Homo sapiens: one gene and its partners. The protein of the gene in region 1 purifies or fractionates together with the protein of each later gene. This does not show direct contact. Each region holds a gene or a part of one and is shown on either strand. Other genes may lie near its edges.

Evidence for each region. The genes of interacting proteins can lie anywhere in the genome.
Region 2: the proteins of LETM1 (region 1) and ADCK2 purify together in Homo sapiens (affinity purification with mass spectrometry; one large-scale study listed by BioGRID and IntAct). This does not show direct contact.
Region 3: the proteins of LETM1 (region 1) and ACOT9 fractionate together in Homo sapiens (co-fractionation; one large-scale study listed by BioGRID). This does not show direct contact.
Region 4: the proteins of LETM1 (region 1) and OGDH fractionate together in Homo sapiens (co-fractionation; one large-scale study listed by BioGRID). This does not show direct contact.

Annotation. Positions count from the first base shown.
Region 1 is NC_000004.12:1,831,382-1,836,020, forward strand, and holds part of LETM1 (mitochondrial proton/calcium exchanger protein precursor), read right to left. Parts: intron 3,602-4,639; coding exon 3,464-3,601; intron 1,567-3,463; coding exon 1,363-1,566; intron 1-1,362. UniProt on the Homo sapiens protein: Plays an important role in maintenance of mitochondrial morphology and in mediating either calcium or potassium/proton antiport. Mediates proton-dependent calcium efflux from mitochondrion.
Region 2 is NC_000007.14:140,678,663-140,683,277, forward strand, and holds part of ADCK2 (uncharacterized aarF domain-containing protein kinase 2), read left to right. Parts: intron 1-492; coding exon 493-621; intron 622-2,379; coding exon 2,380-2,475; intron 2,476-4,615. UniProt on the Homo sapiens protein: The function of this protein is not yet clear. It is not known if it has protein kinase activity and what type of substrate it would phosphorylate (Ser, Thr or Tyr).
Region 3 is NC_000023.11:23,725,944-23,730,558, reverse strand, and holds part of ACOT9 (acyl-coenzyme A thioesterase 9, mitochondrial isoform a precursor), read left to right. Parts: coding exon 1-32; intron 33-4,615. UniProt on the Homo sapiens protein: Mitochondrial acyl-CoA thioesterase. Catalyzes the hydrolysis of acyl-CoAs into free fatty acids and coenzyme A (CoA), regulating their respective intracellular levels. Regulates both mitochondrial lipid and amino acid metabolism.
Region 4 is NC_000007.14:44,608,845-44,613,459, forward strand, and holds part of OGDH (2-oxoglutarate dehydrogenase complex component E1 isoform 1 precursor), read left to right. Parts: intron 1-4,615. UniProt on the Homo sapiens protein: 2-oxoglutarate dehydrogenase (E1o) component of the 2-oxoglutarate dehydrogenase complex (OGDHC). Participates in the first step, rate limiting for the overall conversion of 2-oxoglutarate to succinyl-CoA and CO(2) catalyzed by the whole OGDHC.

The DNA of each region.
Region 1 (4,639 bases):
CTCACAGGTGTCTCCCCCAGTAGGAGGGCAGAAGCATCTCAGTACTGTTTCCCACCTGGCTCCCACTGGCACCATGGTAGACGTGACCTTGTTCCTGCTGGGCAGTGGTCAAAGTCCCAACTCTCCGCTGGGCCCCCAAGGCCACCCCAGTGGTGGGGAAGTGTGGCGGATACACTGTCAGATGAGAGGAAAGCTCAAGCCCCCCACCTGGTCTCCACTGACACCACAGGGGCTGGCCCCCTCAGCCTTCTCTGACACCATCACCACCAGGGCTGGGGTGCCTGTTGTGTCCCGGCAAGGGCGGGATACAGGCTCCCCACATGGCCTTGCCTTGATTCATGGAAATGACTGGCCCTCAACCTGCTCACCAGAGATGCAGGCAGGCTCTTCCTGGAAGAGTTCAACACTGCCCTGAACCTCTTTGTCTTCCACAGACAATGCCTGCATTCAGGAAAAACTAAACACTACAAACAAAATCAGAAGGGAGAGCAAAAGAAAAAGGCCTACGGACCACCCAGTTATTAGAGTAATCAATGTGAACTAGAGTTAGTGCATTCAAAAAGACAGATGACAAGAGGAACAGTTTTACCTGAGAACTGAAATCTTAAGAGCTCCTAGTATGAATAAAAGAGTAACCAGCCGGACACAGTGGCTCATGCCTGTAATCCCAGCACTTTGGGAGGCCGATGTGGGCAGATCGCTTGAGGTCCAGAGTTTGAGGCCAGCCTGGCCAATGTGATGAAGCCCTGTCTCTACTAAAAAATACAAAAAATAGCCGGGTATGGTGGCGGGCGCCTGTAATCCCAGCTACTCTGGAGGCTGAGGCAGGAGAATCGCTTGAACCCAGGAGGCAGAGGTTGCAGTGAGTCGAGATCTCGCCACTGCACTCCAACCTGGGCAACAAGATCGAAACACCGTCTCAAAAAAAAAAAGGAGTAATCAGACCTAGAAGGAGGGCAGCGCCCTGAAAGCACAAAAGGGCGTGAAGCACAGAGGCAAGCACGTGCGATGGACAGGACAGGGCAAAGGGGCAAATGGACCCTCGATGAAGACCCTGATGTGAGGAGAGAGGCACAGAGGCACTGTCATCAATAAGCAGGATGAACACAAAGACAGACACAACTAAGCAAGTTATTATAAATCTGACGAAATCCAAACAGAGAGATCATCCGAGAAGGTGCCAGAGAAAAGACATCCATCTTCAAAGGATCTGCAATCTGCAAGTGGCAAGACTCCTAGTGAGCTTATTTTCGATCGTTCAGCATCTTCCAGAGTTTCTACAATGAGGACATGCTGCTTTTATCATCAGGAAACGAAAAGGTAAAACACCAGAGCTGTGGCGCGGAGTATGGCCAGGCTCACCTTGTCGTCTGCCTTTATGGAGCGCAGCCGCATGGTAAGCTGGAAGCGCAGGAAGTTGTTGGTGCCGATGGACTGTAGCTCCAGCAGCTTGCACAGGGCCACCAGCTGCGGCCGTGTCAGGTTGTCCAGGGTCAGCTCATCCTCAAATAATTTGGAAAAACGCATGATTTCCTCATTGCTGGGCCTCTCCCCTGTTTCCCGGATCTGCGGAAGTGGTCACAAGGGTCATCCCCGGGACACGCGCCCACCCGGCTCCCTCCCACGACCAACCACATTCCCAAAGGGTGCTGCCTCTCATCCTCAGGGACTCAAACCACTGACTACTTCTTCTTTTTTTTTTTTGTTTGAGACAGGGTCTCGCTCTGTTACCCAGGCTGGAATGCAGTGGTGTAATCTCGGTTCACTGCAACCTCCACCTCCTGGGTTCAAGGGATTCTCCTGCCTTAGCCTCCCGAGTAGCTGGGATTACAGGCTGCGCCACCACACCCAGCTAATTTTTGTATTTTAGTAGAGATGGGATTTCACTATGTTGGCCAGGCTGGTCTCAAATACCCGACCTCAAGTCACCTGCCCAGCTTGGCCTCAAACCACTGACTTCTGACTCCGGTGCTGGGCTAGCCTGGGGAAAGGTGGCGTCTGGCCTGTGGACCTCTCCTGCCTGAACCAGCAAAGCTGAGGCTGCTGTCTGCTGGGGGAGACGCCCGGGCCCACAGGCTGCTGCATGCAGGTCCTGTGATCCTCTCTCTGCCACAGAAGTGGCCGGGACCCTGCTGCTCTGGGGCAGGAAGAGGTGCACCTGTGTGCACCTACATCTCCCACGGATGACTGCCTGAGCCTTGGGGGAGGGGTGGCCATCTAGCTCTTTAGGGAGAGCTAGAGTCCCTTAGCGTGGATCACTCAGGGCCCTTTGGGTGATCCTCTGCAGTTCCTACCACCTGAGGGACAAGCCACCAGCTCAGTCTCTGCCAAGAGCTGGGCTAGGAGGGTACCTAGCAGAGGTGACAGATGAGGGAGGACGAGGCTGACTTGGTGCCCAACTCAAATCGTAACATGCAGGATGCCAGCTCTGAGACACAATTTCAGGTGTGCTCCTGGGGGCGGCCCTATGCAGCACACCCCCGTGCAGGTGACTGCAAGCACATCCTTCTTGGCAGCTGGGCGGCCCAGGAAAGGTTGGGACGGGCCCCTCCTGCTCTGCAAGGCACGATGTCCTGGGTGAGGCTCCCAAAGCATGGCTCCCCCTAAAACATCTTGCTGGAACCACCACCCACTCCCTGGGGGGCTCAGCAGCCCCATGGCTGTGTCGCCTCCTCCCGAGAGGCTTCTCCGTGGTTAGGCCTCAGCCTGGCAGTCTTTTCTGTCAAGGGCCAGACAGCAAGTATTTCTGGCTTTGCAGCCATGGAAACCACTCGCCTCTGTGCTGCAGCGGGAAAACCCCACAGACAACGCACACGCATGGCTGGAGTTTCTAGGCCCTGGTTTAAGCTCTTCCTGCACTTCAGACACATCCTTCTCACTCCAAAGTGGCACAAGTCCCTCAAGCCAACAACACCGGCCTCGTGAACCCCATCTAGTCCTCAGGGATCTCGGTCCGTGGCAGCTGCCGTCTCCCCATCCTCACCTCACTCACCACATGACCGCAGGAAACCTCAAGGGCCGCTCCTCCTCTCCAGCCCCCACTGCTCCCACAGTCCAGGCCTCTGACCAGCCCCTGGGACCTGGGATCTTCTTGACTGACTCCAGCCAGAGGGCAATGCCCAGCAGAGGAGCCCGGCCAAGCCACCCACACCTCACACCATCAGGGTCTCAGGCTCCTCATGGGTCAGATTCTACTGCTCCTGGACAGCTGCAGGGTGATGAGACACAGACGCCCATAATTCTGAAGGCTGACGAGGCGCAGCCACCACAGCTTAACTCACTGGGAGCTCGTGGGGGCAGACTCCTGACACTCCACTGGCCCCCGACTGAGCCTCCTGGGTAAACTTTCAAGCGCCAGCCAGCACCTGGGGGAGCTCCACTCTGCTGAGCACAGCGAAAGGGAAACAGAAAATCAGGGAAGGCTCCCTGGTGAGGTCACAGGGACTCAGACGTATCACAGCACCTTCTGGAAAAACACAGAGAAGTCTTTGGTGGCGCTGCCCTTGGCTGCCTTGTTCTTCAAGGCCATCTCCTCGATGGTGTCCTGGAGGAACTTGGCCAGCTCCAGCTTGACCCGAAGCTCCTTCTTCAGCCTCTCCTCCTGCAAGGGCAGAGAGGGCACTGCATTCCAACTGCTCAGACTGTGGTTCGGGCAAGGAAAACATCTCACGCCTGTGCCCGACCCCCACTCCCAGAAACATTTCACAACACACTGACTCTCATCTAAGTGCAATACATTCTCAAACTCTTTTATTTCATGGTTTTAAAAAGTACCCGTGTGGGCCGGGCACAGTGGCTCATGCCTGTAATCCCAGCACTTTGGGAGGCCAAGGTGGGTGGATCACCTGAGGTCAGGAGTTTGAGACCAGCCTGGCCAACACGGTGAAACCCCGTCTCTACTAAAAACACAAAAATTAGCCAGGCATGCACACCTGTAATCCCAGCTACTTGGGAGGCTGAGGCACAAGAATCGCTTGAACCCAGGAGGTGGAGGCTACAGTGAGCTGAGATTGCACCACTGCACTCTCCAGCCTGGGTGACAGAGCGAAACTCCGTCTCAAAAAAAAAACAAAAACAAAACAAAAACAAACAAACAAACAAACAAAAACAAACAAACTCGTGTGATTCCCTAAAGCAAGGATCGGCACACTTTCCGTAATGGGCTAGACAGGAAGGCGTCTGGCCTTCATGGCTGTGTGGTCTAAAACAAATGCTTAACTCTGCTGGTGCCTCACAGACAAGACACATGACTGGGCATCGCAGGTCCCCACAGGGCTCTGCTGAGAACAGGCAGGGTCCTGATCTGGCCTGTGGGCTGCAGCTGGCTGACCCTGCCCTAGAAGGACCTCATGACTCCCCTATAGCACCGGTAGGGGAGTGTTCCTGGTCTAGAAAACCTGTATTTTAAAATACATTGAGCTGGAAGCAGTGGCTCACACCCATAATAACACTTTGGGAGGTCATGGCAAGAGGATTACTTGTGCCCAGGAGTTTGAGACCAGCCTGGGCAACATAGCAGATCTTGTCTATAAAAAACAAAAAAAAATTAGTCAGATGTGGTGGCTTAGCCTGTAGTCCCAGCTATTCGGGAGCTAAGACAAGAGGATCACTTAAGTCCAGGAACTTGAGGCTGCAGTGA
Region 2 (4,615 bases), on another chromosome or scaffold:
GTGGTCCTTTGGGTCTGGTGAGTGGTGGTTGGGGAGAGTAGCAGTGGCAGTGTCGATGCGGTGGGTGGAGAGCTGCCGCGAGATGAAGGGGTAGCCCTGTGTGGAAGCGCCCACAGCACGCTGGCCCTAATGGAAAGAGAGGGCTGGGGGCTGGCCTGGAGAAGCCAGACCCCAGGGAGACGGGGAAGGGACTCATGGGCTGGTGTGAGGCAGGCGGGTGGCAAGGGCGAGAGTAGCAGAGAAGCAGTGCAGCCCAAAGCCCACCAGGGCACCTGCCGTCTGCAGCCTCCAGGAGTTCACACAGAGATCTGGGATTGCTGGGGCAGGCTGTAGCCCACGGATGTCGCCTCCTGAGTTTCTGGGCAAGTTCTGCGGGGCAAGCTGGTGGGGAAGGTGGGGTGGATCTCATGACTTGCTAGCTCCTTGGCATTGCAGATGTCACTGTGCCTGTACCCAGACTAGCCCTCATCCTTTCTGTCCATTTCTCTGTAGATTGACCTGCGTTACGAAGCTCAGAATCTAGAACACTTCCAGGTCAACTTCCGGAATGTGAAAGCCGTCAAGTTCCCCACCCCTCTGCGCCCCTTTGTCACCAGAGAAGTCTTGGTGGAAACGTATGAAGTAAGAGTGATGGCTTTGCCTGGCCATACCTTTCACTTGCCACTCGCAGTGGGCCCGTCTCCAGCCCACAGAAAGGCTTCAGTCTGGAGAGAGGATGGGATTTGTGTCTGTAAAACTGTGAGGAGCTGGGATGTGTTGGCCTCGGCGGGAGGCAGTGTTGGAGTGAGGTAGCTGAGAACACTGGGTGTGGCCCGATCCCCTAGATTTGAAAATCTGCTCTGCCATTTTATTAGTTGGTGACCTGCCTTAGAGGATTGTCTCAGGAGTAAATGACACACTGAATGCAAAACAAGGAGTTGGGCACAGAGAAAGTGCTGAACAACCTTGTGTCATCTCACTTGCCCTAGCTATCCTCTACTCTAGTTCAGCCTTCTCTCTCTTTTTTTTTTTTTTTTTTTTTTTTTTTTGAGATAGAGTCTCACTCTGTTGCCCAGGCTGGAGTGCAGTGGCATGATCTCAGCTCACTGCCACCTCCGCCTTCCAGGTTCAAGTGATTCTCGTGCCTCAGCCTCCCAAGTAGCTGCGATTACAGGTGTGTGCCACCACACCTGGCTAATTTTTGTATTTTTTAGTAGAGATGGAGTTTTGCCGTGTTGGCCAGGCTGGTCTGGAACTCCTGACCTCAAGTGATCTGCCTGCCTTGGCCTCCCAAAGTGCTGGGATTACAGGCATGAGCCACTGCACCCAGCCCAGCCTCCTCTTTACAGATGGTGATATGAGATTCAGGGAATCTCATGAATGTGACATGAACCACACAGTGTTTCTAGCTGTGTGAACTTGAGCAAGTTGCTTAACCTCTCTGGGCTTTGGTTCTTTTATTTGTTAATTAGGGATAACAAGATCTATCTCCATGGGTTGTTTTGACAATTTTTTTTTTTTTGAGACAAGGTCTTGCTCTGTTGCCCAGGCTGTGGTACAGTGGCATGATCTCGGCTCACTGCAGCCTCCACCTCCTGGGCTCAAGTGATCATTCCACCTCAGCCTCCCAAGTAGCTGGGACCATAGGCACGAGCCACCATCCCCATGTCCGACTAATTTTTGTATTTTTCTGTAGAGCCTGGGTTTCTCCCTGTTGCCCAGGCTGGTCTCAAACTCCCAAGTTCAAGTGATCCTCCTGCTTTGGTTTCCAAAAGTGCTAGGATTATACGTGTTAGCCACCACACCTGGGTAATTTTTTTTTTTTTTTGTAGAGATGGGGGTCTCCTTACGTTGCCCAGACCCCTATTGGCTGATTCTTGCCCAGAAACCAGCTCTCTGGTGCCCACCCCTATCTTTTCAGGACATCACATCTCTTATCTTCAGTAGCAGAGTTGATAGGTTTCCTTTTCAATAAACCTATGTGACTTGTCATCCTTCTGATAGCTGTTATAGAAGGGAATGTAAATAAGTTCAAATCAATGTGTGGATGACAGATTTTTGTTTTGTTTTGTTTGAGACAGAGTCTCTGTCACTCAGGCTAGAGTGCAGTGGCGCAATCTCAGCTCACTGAAGCCTTGACTTTCCGAGTTGAGGTGGTTCTCCCTCATGTTGTCCAGGCTGGTCTTGAACCCCTGGGCTCAAGCAATCCTCCCAAGGTGCTAGGATTACAGGTGTGAGCCACTGCACATGGCTGAATGACAGATGGGTTCTAGGAAAGGAAATACTCTTTGGGTTACTTCCCAATAAGTGAGAAGACAGCGCTGTGGTGCCACGTGGGAGGAGGAGCCAGCATCACAGGCTGGCTGGGATTAAGCTGTTCTCTCCCTGGTCTTTCTGAAGGAGAGTGTGCCTGTGTCCAGTTACCAGCAGGCAGGAATTCCCGTGGACTTGAAAAGGAAGATTGCACGGCTGGGGATCAACATGCTCCTGAAGATGGTGAGCTCATGGCTGGAGCGGGCTCAGGCCCAGCATGTGGTCAGCTTGCAGATGGGGAGTGGGCTGGGACTCTGGCTATCTGGGTGGGAAGGAGAGCGAAGCAGCAAGCCGCCAGGTTGAGAAAGTCTGGTCTAGAAAGAGTGGAGGCTACCATAAATGGCCATGGTGTCTGTGAAGCTCTTTTATTTTTTTTTTTTTGAGATGGAGTCTTGCTCTGTCGCCCAGGCTGGAGTGCGGTGGCGTGATCTCGGCTCACTGCAAGCTCTGCCTCCTGGGTTCACGCCATTCTCCTGCCTCAGCCTCCCAAGTAGCTGGGACTACAGGCGCCCGCCACCACGCCTGGCTAATTTTTTGTATTTTTTTAAGTAGAGATGGGGTTTCATCATGTTAGCCAGGATGGTGTCGATCTCCTGACCTCATGATCCACCCGCCTTGGCCTCCCAAAGTGCTGGGATTACAGGTGTGAACCACCACACCCGGCCTTTTTTTTCCTTTTTTAAGATAGGGTCTCACTCTGTTGCCGAGGTTGGAGTGCAGTGGCAAAATCTCCATGAACTACAGCCTCAACCTCTTGGGCTCAAGTGATCCTGCCTCCTCACTCCTCAGCCTCCTGAGTAGCTGGGACTACAAACATGAGCCACCAAGCCTGGCTAATTTAAAAAATTGTTTTGTAGGGACTTACTATGTTGTCCAGGGCAGTCTTGAACTCCTGGGATCAAGCGATCCTCCCACCTTGGCCTCCCAAAGTGTTGGGATTACAGGCATGAACCACCATGCCCGGCCTCTTAAGTGCTTTGTCAGTGGCTCATGCTCTGTGTGCTGTGAGAAGAAGGGTGACCATGACCCAGTTCTGCCAGCATTGCCTGTAGTTTAGCAAACAGCTGAGACAATATCTTATTTTAAATGCTGCTTTGCTCATTTGTTCAGCAAATGTTTATTGAGCACCTGCTAGGTGCCAGGCACTGAATTAAGGGCTGGGGTTACAGCAGTGAGCAAAACAGACACAATTACAATGCTCGTGACATACTATTCCTTGGGAAGATAGGTGACGACTAAGTAAATGATTTATAGGGATAGGTACGGGGTACCAAAAGGTCATTTCGGAGGAGACTGTGCTAACCCAGGGATTCACTCAGGAAGTGGCTCCATCTCAGCTGCAGTGTGAAGGTCTAGGTGTCACTACATAAGGACAGGTGGCAGGGAGTTGTCTAGAGAGAATAGCCTTTGCTGAGGCCTGGGGTGAGCTACTGCATGGTGCTCTTGGAGAGACGAAAGCACTTAGTATGGCTTGGAAGAGAGTTTGAAGGAGGGGGCAGTGATTGCTGAGGCTGAGGAGGTGAGAGGAGGCTGAGGAGGTGAGAGGGGCCTGACCACAAAGGGTCTAGTAAATCTGTGAAAGAGTTTGGACTTTAATCCAAGGGCAGATAAGTTCATTTTGAAGATTTTTGCCCTTAACTTTAAAAAATTGAATTCCAATAATATTTAAATATAAAGTGCTCAGATCTTAAATGATGCTTAGTGAATTTTTAAAAAGCATCCCAGTGCCCAGATTAAAACATAGGAGAGTTTTGGCTGGGTGCAGTGGCTCACACCTATAATCCCAGCACTTCAGGAGGCTGAGGCGGGGAGATTGCTTGAGCCCAGGGGTTTGAGACCAGCCTGAGCAAGATGCCAAAACCCTGTCACTACAAAAAAAAAAAAAAAAAAATACAAAAATTGGCCACGTTTGGTGGCAGCATGCCTTTAGTCCCAGCTACCTGGGAGGCTGAGGTGGGATCACCTGAGCCCAGGAGATGGAGGTTGTAGTGAGCTAAAATCATGCCACTGCACTCCAACCTCAGATACAATGAGACTCTGTCTCAAAAAAAAAAAAAAAAAAAAAAAGCCAGGCGCAGTGGCTCATGCCTGTAATCCCAGCACTTTGGGAGGCCGAGGCAGGTGGATCACGAGGTCAGGAGATCGAGACCATCCTGGCCAACATGGTGAAACCCTGTCTCTACTAAAATACAAAAAATTAGCCAGACGTGGTGGTGCATGCCTGTAGTCCCAGCTACTCGGAATTGCTTGAACCCAGGAGGCAGAGATTGCAGTGAGCCGAGATCACAGCACTGCACTCCAGCCTGGCGACAGAGCGAGACTC
Region 3 (4,615 bases), on another chromosome or scaffold:
CAGGATTCTTGAGGATCTTGACAGCTTGGGAGGTACTGGTATTATTTTAGTCTTTCTAATAGATACCTACAGATATACATTGAATTCTGTGACTGGAAAGGGCTCTTTTATTCTTTAACCTGCACAGATGATGATATTCTAAAGTGCACAAAAAAAGAAGGACATCGGCCGGGCGTGGTGGCTCATGCCTGTAATCCCAGCACTTTGGGAGGCTGAGGCGGGCGGATCACTTGAGGTTGGGAGTTTGAGACCAGCCTGACCAACATGGAGAAACCCCGTCTCTACTAAAAATACAAAATTAGCCAGTTGTGTTGGTGGGCGCCGTAATCCCAGCTACTTGGGAGGCTGAGGCAAGAGAATCACTTGAACCTGGGAGGCAGAGGTTGCGGTGAGCTGAGATCGTGCCATTGCACTACAGCCTGGGTAACAAGAGTGAAACTCCATCTCCAAAAAAAAAAAAAAAAAATGGCATCTACTACTTCTGAATTGTCATAATTTTTTTCTTATAAATGTAGATTCCTATTTAATGGAGGTATAGTCTGAATAATCTTTCTTACTAGTAACTTTAAAAAAAGAAAGTCTTAAACTTACAGAAAAGTTGCAAATACAGTATAAAGAATTTTTCTGTGGCCAGGCGCGGTGGCTCACGCCTATAATCCCAGCACTTTGGGAGGCTGAGGCAGGCAGATCACAAGGTCAGGAGATCGAGACCATCCTGGCTAACATGGTGAAACCCCATCTCTACTAAAAATACAAAAAATTAGCCAGGCGTGGTGGCATACGCCTGTAGTCCCAGCTATTCAGGAGGCTGAGGCAGGAGAATCACTTGAACCTGGGAGGTGGAGGTTGCATTGAGCCGAGATCGCGCCACTGCACTCCAGCCTGGGCGACAGAGTGAGACTCCGTCTCAAAAATAAAAAAGAAAAAAATTTTTTGTCCCTGAATTATGTGAGAATAAGTGGCTGACATGATGCCACATCACCCCCAAATATTTGAATATGTCTTTCCTACAAACAAGGACATTCTTCTACATAACTACAAAACAACCATAAAAAATCAGGAAATTAACACTGATGTGTCATACTGTCTAATCCTCAGGTCCCATTCAACTTTTGCCAGTGGTCCTTCATAGCAGAAGGATCCAGTTCTGAATCATATGTTGATTTAATTGTCATGTCAGGACTAGTTCCTTAATCTTTCTTTGACTTTCGTGACTTTGACATGGTTCTTTTGTGTATTGTCCCTCAATTTGGGTCTGTGTGGTGCTTCCTCATGATTAGCTTTGGGTTATGCATCTCTGGCAGGAATGTCACAGAAGGGATGCTCTGTTCTTATTGTATCCTATCAAGTGGTGCATGGTTTTGATTTGTCTCATTACTGATGATATCAGCTTTGCTTACTGGATGACGATGATGTCTGCCACTGTTCTTCACTGTAAAGTTACTCTTTTCCCCTTTGTAATTAATAAGTACCTTATGTGGGGGGGGGTGGCAGGTAACTTTGAGACCTTCATCAGACTTTCAATTCATTATTTTTAAATCAGTATGGACTCAGGAATTCCTATGTTACTGAATGGACTATAATATGTTACTATCATCTATTTGATGTTCACATGATCCCAGGAGTGTCCCAGTCCCTTCAGGCTAGCTTCTGTGTGGTTTTCTTTGATGTGTCCCCATTATTCTTTGAGCACTTTCTCACTTTCTGGCACAATAAAATATTCTAGGCTCATCTTATGCTTTTCCCTGCCCCAGTCCTAGAATCACCCACATCTCCAAGGAGCCCTTTTTTGAAATGGAGAATGATATTTTGAAGTGGAGGATGATATTTTGAAATGGAGATATGTGCGTTGGGAGTGGTCATTATTCCTGGGTATCACTGCTCCCATACCCTCTTAGTGGAGGAGCTGGGAAATATATGTGCATATACGTACATATATGTTATTTCTAAATCTTTGTACAGATGTATGTATGAAAACCATGGGATCGCACTGATAGCTCCAATTCCAGTTCAGCCACCACGGGGTTCATTCTCATTTCCTTCCTTTCCATATTTGTAATTCCCTTCTCCAACTGGCTCCATTCTCCTTAATATATTGACTTATTTAATCAGTTCCGCTGTATGTGACCAATTTCCTATGGCTGCCACCCCTCATGCATCATGGATGCTCCCCTCACCTTACCTGGGCTCTGGTACCCCACACCAGGTCCCCCTCTGCAGGCTCACCCTCTTCATTGTGCTCAAGCTGTGACATGCTCTGCCATCACTCTTGCAGCCTCTCTGCAAGGATGTCCTCCTCACCGTGCTTGGATGCCAGCACCCTACTCTAGGTTACCTTACTTGCTCCCACCTAATGATATTTGGGCTGAATGGTTGGGAAAGGGTCTGAAAAAGGGTTCTAATATATTGTTTAAAAAACTATTTTTTTATAGAGATGGGGTCTCCCTGTGTTGCCCAGGTTTTTCGTGAACTCCTGGGCTCAAAGGATCTTCCTGCCTCAGCCTCCTAAAGTTCTGATTACAGGTGTGAGCCGCCGTGCCTGGCCTTTTTTTTTTTTTTTGAGACAGAGTCTCACTCTTGTTGCCCGGCCTGGAGTAGAGTGGTCCGATCTTGGCTCATTGCATCTTCTGCCTCTGGGTTCAGGCGATTCTCCTGCCTCAGCCTCCTGAACAGCTGGGATTACAGGCACCCGCCATCACATCTGGCTAATTTTTGTATTTTTAGTAGAGACGGGGTTTCACCATGTTGGCCAGTCTGGTCTCAAACTCCTGACCTCAGGTGATCTGCCTGCCTCGGCCTCCCAAAGTGCTGGGATTACAGGTGTGAGCCACCATGCCAGGCCCTAACTTTTAAAATATAGATACAAGCTTGTTGTTAAGCTTACGCCTAGCAACTACTTTTCTCTAGATTAAATAAACCCAGTTAAAAATTCTTGGCTGGGCACAGTGGCTCACACCTGTAATCCTTGCACTTTGGGAGATCGAGGCAGGAGGATCGCTTGAGGCCAAGACTTTGAGACCAGCCTGGGAAACATAGTGAGTCCCCATCTCTACAAAACCCAAAAAATTAGCTGGGCATGGTGGCATGCACTAGTAGTTCCAGCTACTCAGAAGACTGAGGTGGGAGGATTGCTTCAGCCCAGGAAGTCGAGGCTGCAGTGAGCTGTGGTGACACCACTGCACTACAGCCTGATTGACTTTGGTTTGCTTAGGTGTCCTTATATATACAAACTCCCCTGCCACTACCCTCTTTCTTGCTCATTAACTTCTGTTGATGGCCAGTCCCTTTAACCTGTTCACTTGATTCTATTCCTTCTATTTCTTCAAGGAACTGCCTTATCACTTGGCTTTCTCCCTCATTTCCTGAGCCTTTTCTCAACTTCACTTTTCCCTCAAGTTATAAACATATTCAAGGTTCTTCCATCTTAAAATGAAAAATAGGCCGGGCAGGGTGGCTTACGCCTGTAATCCCAGTAGTTTGGGAGGCCGAGGCGGGTGGATCACTTGAGGCCAGGAGTTCGAGACCAGCCTGGGCAATATGGTGAAACCCCGTCTCTACTAAAACTACAAAAAGTAGCCGGGCGTGGTGGTGCGTGCCTGTAATCCCAGCTACTCGGGAGGCTGAGGCACGAGAATCGCTTGAGCCTGGGAGGCAGAGGTTGCAGTGAGCTGAGATAGACTCCAGCCTGGACAACAGAGCGAGACTCTGTCTCAAAAACACAAAAATTAGCCGGGTGTAGTGGCATGTGCCTGTAGTCCCAACTACTCAGGAGGTTGAGGCAGGAGAATGGCTTGAACCCGGGAGGTGGAGGCTGCAGTGAGCTGAGATCGCACCACTGCATTCCAGCCTGGGTGACAGAGTGAGGCTCTGAGTCAAAAAAAAAAAAAAAGATAAGTAAAAAATCCTCTTTCCTTATAACACCTCACACTTTCTTCCTTACTTCATAGCTCACTTTCTGAAAAGAACCTAGAAAATCACCTGCTCTCATTGCCTCTTTATGCTAACTTCCTGTTAATTAAACATTTCCCGGTCGGCTGTGTTCCGGCTTCTGCTCCTCCACGCCATTGAATCTGCTCTTGCCAAGCTCGCCATTGGCCCCTTTACTGCACAGTTGAATGGATACTTTTCAGGGCTGACCTGACCCCTTTGTGGCTTCTTATATCGTCCAGCCCATCCTTGGGCTTTGGTGACATTTCCTTCTGCTTCTCTGGCTGCTCTTTTGTAGTCCCCTTTGTAGGTTCCTCTTTTTCTGTTGATCCCTTAAATGTAGGTTATCCCCAGGGTTTTGTCTTCTGCCCTTTCAAAAACTGATTATTTTTTGAATTTATTTTATTTTATTTTGTTTATTTATTTTTTTTGAGCTGTAGTTTCGCTCTTGTTGCCCAGGCTGGAGTGCAATGGCGCTATCTCAGCTCACTGCATCCTCCATCTCCCGGGTTCAAGGGATTCTCCTGCCTCAGCCTCCCATGTAGCTGGGATAACAGGCACACACCACCACGCCCGGCTAATTTTTTGTATCTTTAGTAGAGACGGGGTTTCACCATGTTGGCCGGGCTGGTCTCGAACTTCTGACCTCAGGTGATCCACTCGCCTCGGCCTCCCAAAGTGCTGGGAT
Region 4 (4,615 bases), on another chromosome or scaffold:
ACATAAAAATTTATTCTATGCAGTCATAATAAATAGTACAGAGAGATCCTGTGTTCCTTTCCCACTTCTCTAACATTGTGCAAAACTATAGTAAATATCACAGCCAGATATTGACATTAATAAAATTCAAGATACAGAATATTCCCGTCATCACAAGGATCCCTTCCATTGCTTTTTTATAGCCACACCCACATTCCTCCCATTCCCAGTCCTTCAACTCCTGGTAACCACTAATCTGTTCTTCATTTCCCTAATTTTGGCATGTCAAGAATGCCAAATAAAAGGATTCATAGAGCCTTTTGGGATTGGTTTTTTCCAGTCAGCTTAATTCCCTGGAGAATCATCCAGGTTGTTGCGTGTTATGGGTAGTTCATTCCTTGGCCAGGCGCAGTGGCTTACGCCTGTAATCCTAGCAACTTTGGGAGGCTGAGGCAGGCAGATCGCTTGAGCCCCAGGAGTTCGAGTCTGAGGAACATAGTGAGACCTCGTCTCTACAAAAAAAAAAAAAAAAAAAAATTAGCCAGGCGCAGTGGTGTGTTCCTGTAATCCCAGCTACTCAGGAAGCTGAGGTGGGAGGATCGCTTGAGCCTAGGCTGTGGTGGCTGCGGTGAGCCGAGATCGCGCCACTGCACTCCAGCATGAGTGACAGAGTGAGACCCTGTCTCAAAAAAAAAAAAAAAAAGGTACTTCATTCCTTTTTATTGAAGCCGGGCTATTGGGCTATGGATGTACCACATTTGGTTTATTCATCCATTAAAAGACATCTTTACTGTTTCCATTCTTTGGCTATTACAAATAAAGCTGCTACAAACCTTCATGTACAGATTTTTATTTGAACATAAATTGACATTTCTCCAAGATAAATGCCCAGGAATACAATCACTAAGTCGTAGTGCGTGCTTAGTTATTAAACAAATAGCCAAACTGTTTTCCAGAGTGATTGTACTATTTTACATTCCCACCGGCACTGTATGGTCTTGTTTCTCCACATACTTGCCAGCATTTGGTGATGTTACTTTTTTTATTATAGCCATTCCAATAAATGTGTAGTAATGTCTCTTTGTGGTTGTAATTTGCATTTTTCTGATGGCTAATGATGTTGAACATCTTTTCATGTGCTTATTTGCCATCTGTCTATTCTCTCTTTTTTTGGAAGAGATGGGATCTTGCTATGTTGCCCAGGCTGGTCTTGAACTCCTGGGATCAAGTGATCCTCCTGTCTTAGCCTCCCAAAGGCTAGGATTTCAGGCATGAGCCACCATGCCTGGCCCCTGTATACTCTCGGGTGAAATGTCTGTTCATATCTTTTGTTCATTTCGTAATTAGATTGTTCGGTTTTTGTTAACTGTTGAGCTTTGAGAATTCCTAATGTATTCTAGATACCACTGCTTTGTTGGATATGTAGTTTGCAGATATTTTCTCCTAGTCAGCAGCATGTCTTTTCATCTTGGTTTTTTTTTTGTTTGTTTGTTTGTTTTGTTTTTGAGATGGAGTCTCGTTCTGTCCCCCAGGCTGGAGTGCAGTGGCGTAATCTCTACAACCTCTGCCTCCCAGGTTCAAGCGATTCTTCCGCCTCAGCCTCCTGAGTAGCTGGGATTACAGGCGCTTGCCACCACACCTGGCTAATTTTTGTATTTTTAGTAGAGACGGGGTTTCACCGTGTTGGTCAGGCTGGTCTCGAACTCCTGACCTCGCGATCTGTCCACCTCAGCCTCCCAGAGTGCTGGGATTACAGGCGTGAGCCACTGCTCCTAGCCCTTTTCATCTTTTTGTTTGTTTGTTTGTTTGAGACGGAGTCTTGCTCTGTTGCCCAGGCTGGAGTGCAGTGGTGCAATCTTGGCTCACTGCAACCTCCACCTCCCCGGTTCAAGCCTTTCTCAGCCTCCCAAGTAGCTGGGACTACAGCCGCGTGCCACCACGCCCGGCTAATTCTTTTGTATTTTTAGTAGAGACGGGCTTTTACTGTGTTAGCCAGGATGGTCTGGATCTCCTGACCTCGTGATCGACACCCCCTTGGCCTCCCAAAGTGCTGGGATTACAGGCGTGAGCCACCGCGCTCAGCCCCTTTTCATCTTCTTAACGGGGTCTTTTGCAAAGCAAAAGTTTATAATTTTGATGAGGTCTGGTTTACCAATTTTATCTTTTGTTAGATTGCTTTTGGTGTTGAGTTGAAGAACTCTTTGCCTAGCCCAAATTCCTGAAGATTTTATCATATGTATTTTTCTAAATTTTTTTTTTTTTTTTTTTGGAGACACGGTCTTACTCTGTCACCCCAGGCTGGAGTGCAGTGGCATGATCACAGCTCACCGCAGCCTCAACCTCCTGGGCTCAGGTGATCCGGTGATCCTCACACCTCAGCCTCCTGAGTAGCTAAGAGTACCGGAGTCTGCACCATGCCTGGCTAATTTTTGTATTTTTTGTTTTTTGGTTTTTTGAGACGGAGTCTCGCTCTGTCGCCCAGGCTGGAGTGCTGGAGTGCAGTGGCACGATCTCAGCTCACTGCAACCTCCGCCTTCCGGGTTCATGCCATTCTCCCACCTCAGCCTCCTGAGTAGCTGGGACTACAGGTGCCCGCCACCATGCCCGGCTAATTTTTTTTTTTTGTATTTTTTAGTAGAGACGGGGTTTCACTGTGTTACCCAGGATGGTCTCGATCTCCTGACCTCGTGATCCCCCCCGCCTCGGCCTCCCAAAGTGCTGGGATTACAGGCGTGAGCCACCGTGCCTGGCCTAATTTTTGTATTTTTTGTAGGGACGGGTTTTGCCATGTTGCCCAGACTGGTCTCAAACTCCTGGGGTCAAGCAATCCTCCCACCTTGGCTTCCTGAAGTGCCAGGATTACAGGCGTGAGCCACTGCGCCTGGCCACTTTTATAAAATTTTTAAATTTTACATTTAAATCTATGATTCATTTAGACTTAATTTCTTTTTTCTTTTTTTTTTTATGTTTTCACTTTATGGTACTTTTTGATGAACAGTTTTTAATTTTAATGTAATTGATATAAATTTAGTCTTGTGGCCAGCTTTTTTTGAGTCCTAAAGACTCAAGATCAAATAGATATTCTAAAAGTTTTAATGTTTTTTTTTATTATTATGCTTTAAGTTCTGGGGTACATGTGCACAACATGCAGGTTTGTTACATATGTATACATGTGCCATGTTGGTGTGCTGCACCCATTAACTCGTCATTTACATTAGGTATATCCATTTGGAGTTAATTTCTGTATGTGGTTTAAAGTTTGAGTGTTTTTTGGTTTTTGTGGGGGGTTTTTGCTTATGAATATCTAACCAGCACCGTTTGTTTGAGAAGACTGTTTTTCTTCCATTGAATTGCTTTTGCACTTTCGTCAGAAATCACTTGGCTGTACTTGTGTGACTCTGTTTCTGATTCTCTGTTGCATTCCATTGATCTTTGTGTCTATCCCATCACCAATACCGAGAGTTTTTATTATTGTAGCTCATAAGAAGTCTCAAAATCGGATAGATTGATTTCTCTCACTTCTTTTTCAAAATTGTTTCAGCTAATCTAGTTCTTTTGCCTTTCTTTTTTTTTTCTTGTGACGGAGTCTTACTCTGTTGCCCAGGCTGGAGTGCAATGGGCATGATCTCGGCTCACTGCAACCTCTGCATCCTGGGTTCAAGCGATTCTCCTGCCTCAGACCCCCGAGTAGGTGGGACTACAGGCATGCACCACCACACCCTGCTAATTTTTTTTATTTTTAGTAGAGATGGGGTTTCACCATGTTGGCCAGGCTGGTCTTGAACTCCTGATCTCATGATCCACTCGCCTCGGCCTCCCAAAGTGCTAGGATTACAGGCGTGAGCCACCACGCCTGGCCACCTTTCTTCATTATACTTATTTATTATTTTTGAGGCAGGGTCTTACTCTGTCACCCAGGCTGGAGTAGAGTGGCATTATCACAGCTCACTGCAGCCTCTACTTCCAGGCTCAAGCAATCTTGCTACTTCAGCCTCCTGAGTAGCTGGGACTGCAGGCACGTACCACCACGCCTGGCTGTTTTTTTTCTTTTCTTTTCTTTTCTTTTCTTTTTTTTGAGACGGAGTGTCACTCTGTCGCCCAGGCTGGAGTGCAGTGGCGCGATCTCGGCTCACTGCAACCTCCGCCTCCTGGGTTCAAGCAATTCTCCTGCCTCAGCCTCCTGAGTAGCTGGGACTACAGGCACGTGCCACCAACGTAATTTTTTTGTATTTTTAGTAGAGACAGGGTTTCACCATGTTAGCCAGGATGGTCTCGATCTCCTGACCTCGTGATCCACTTGCCTCTGCCTCCCAAAGTGCTGGGATTACAGGCATGAGCCACTGCGCCTGGCTTGTTTTTGTTTTTGTTTTTTGAGACAGTCTCACTTTGTCGCCCAGGCTGGAATGCAGTGTTGTGATCTCGGCTCACTGCAACCTCTGCCTCCCAGATTCATGTTATTCTCTCACCTCGGCCTCCTGAGTAACTGGGACTATAGGCACCCGCCACCACACCTGGCTGTTTTGTTTGTTTGTTTATTTGTTTGTTTGTTTGTTTTGAGACGGAGTCTCACTCTGTCACCCAGGCTGGAGTGCAGTGATGCGATCTTGGCTCACCGCAAGCTCTGCCACCCAGGTTC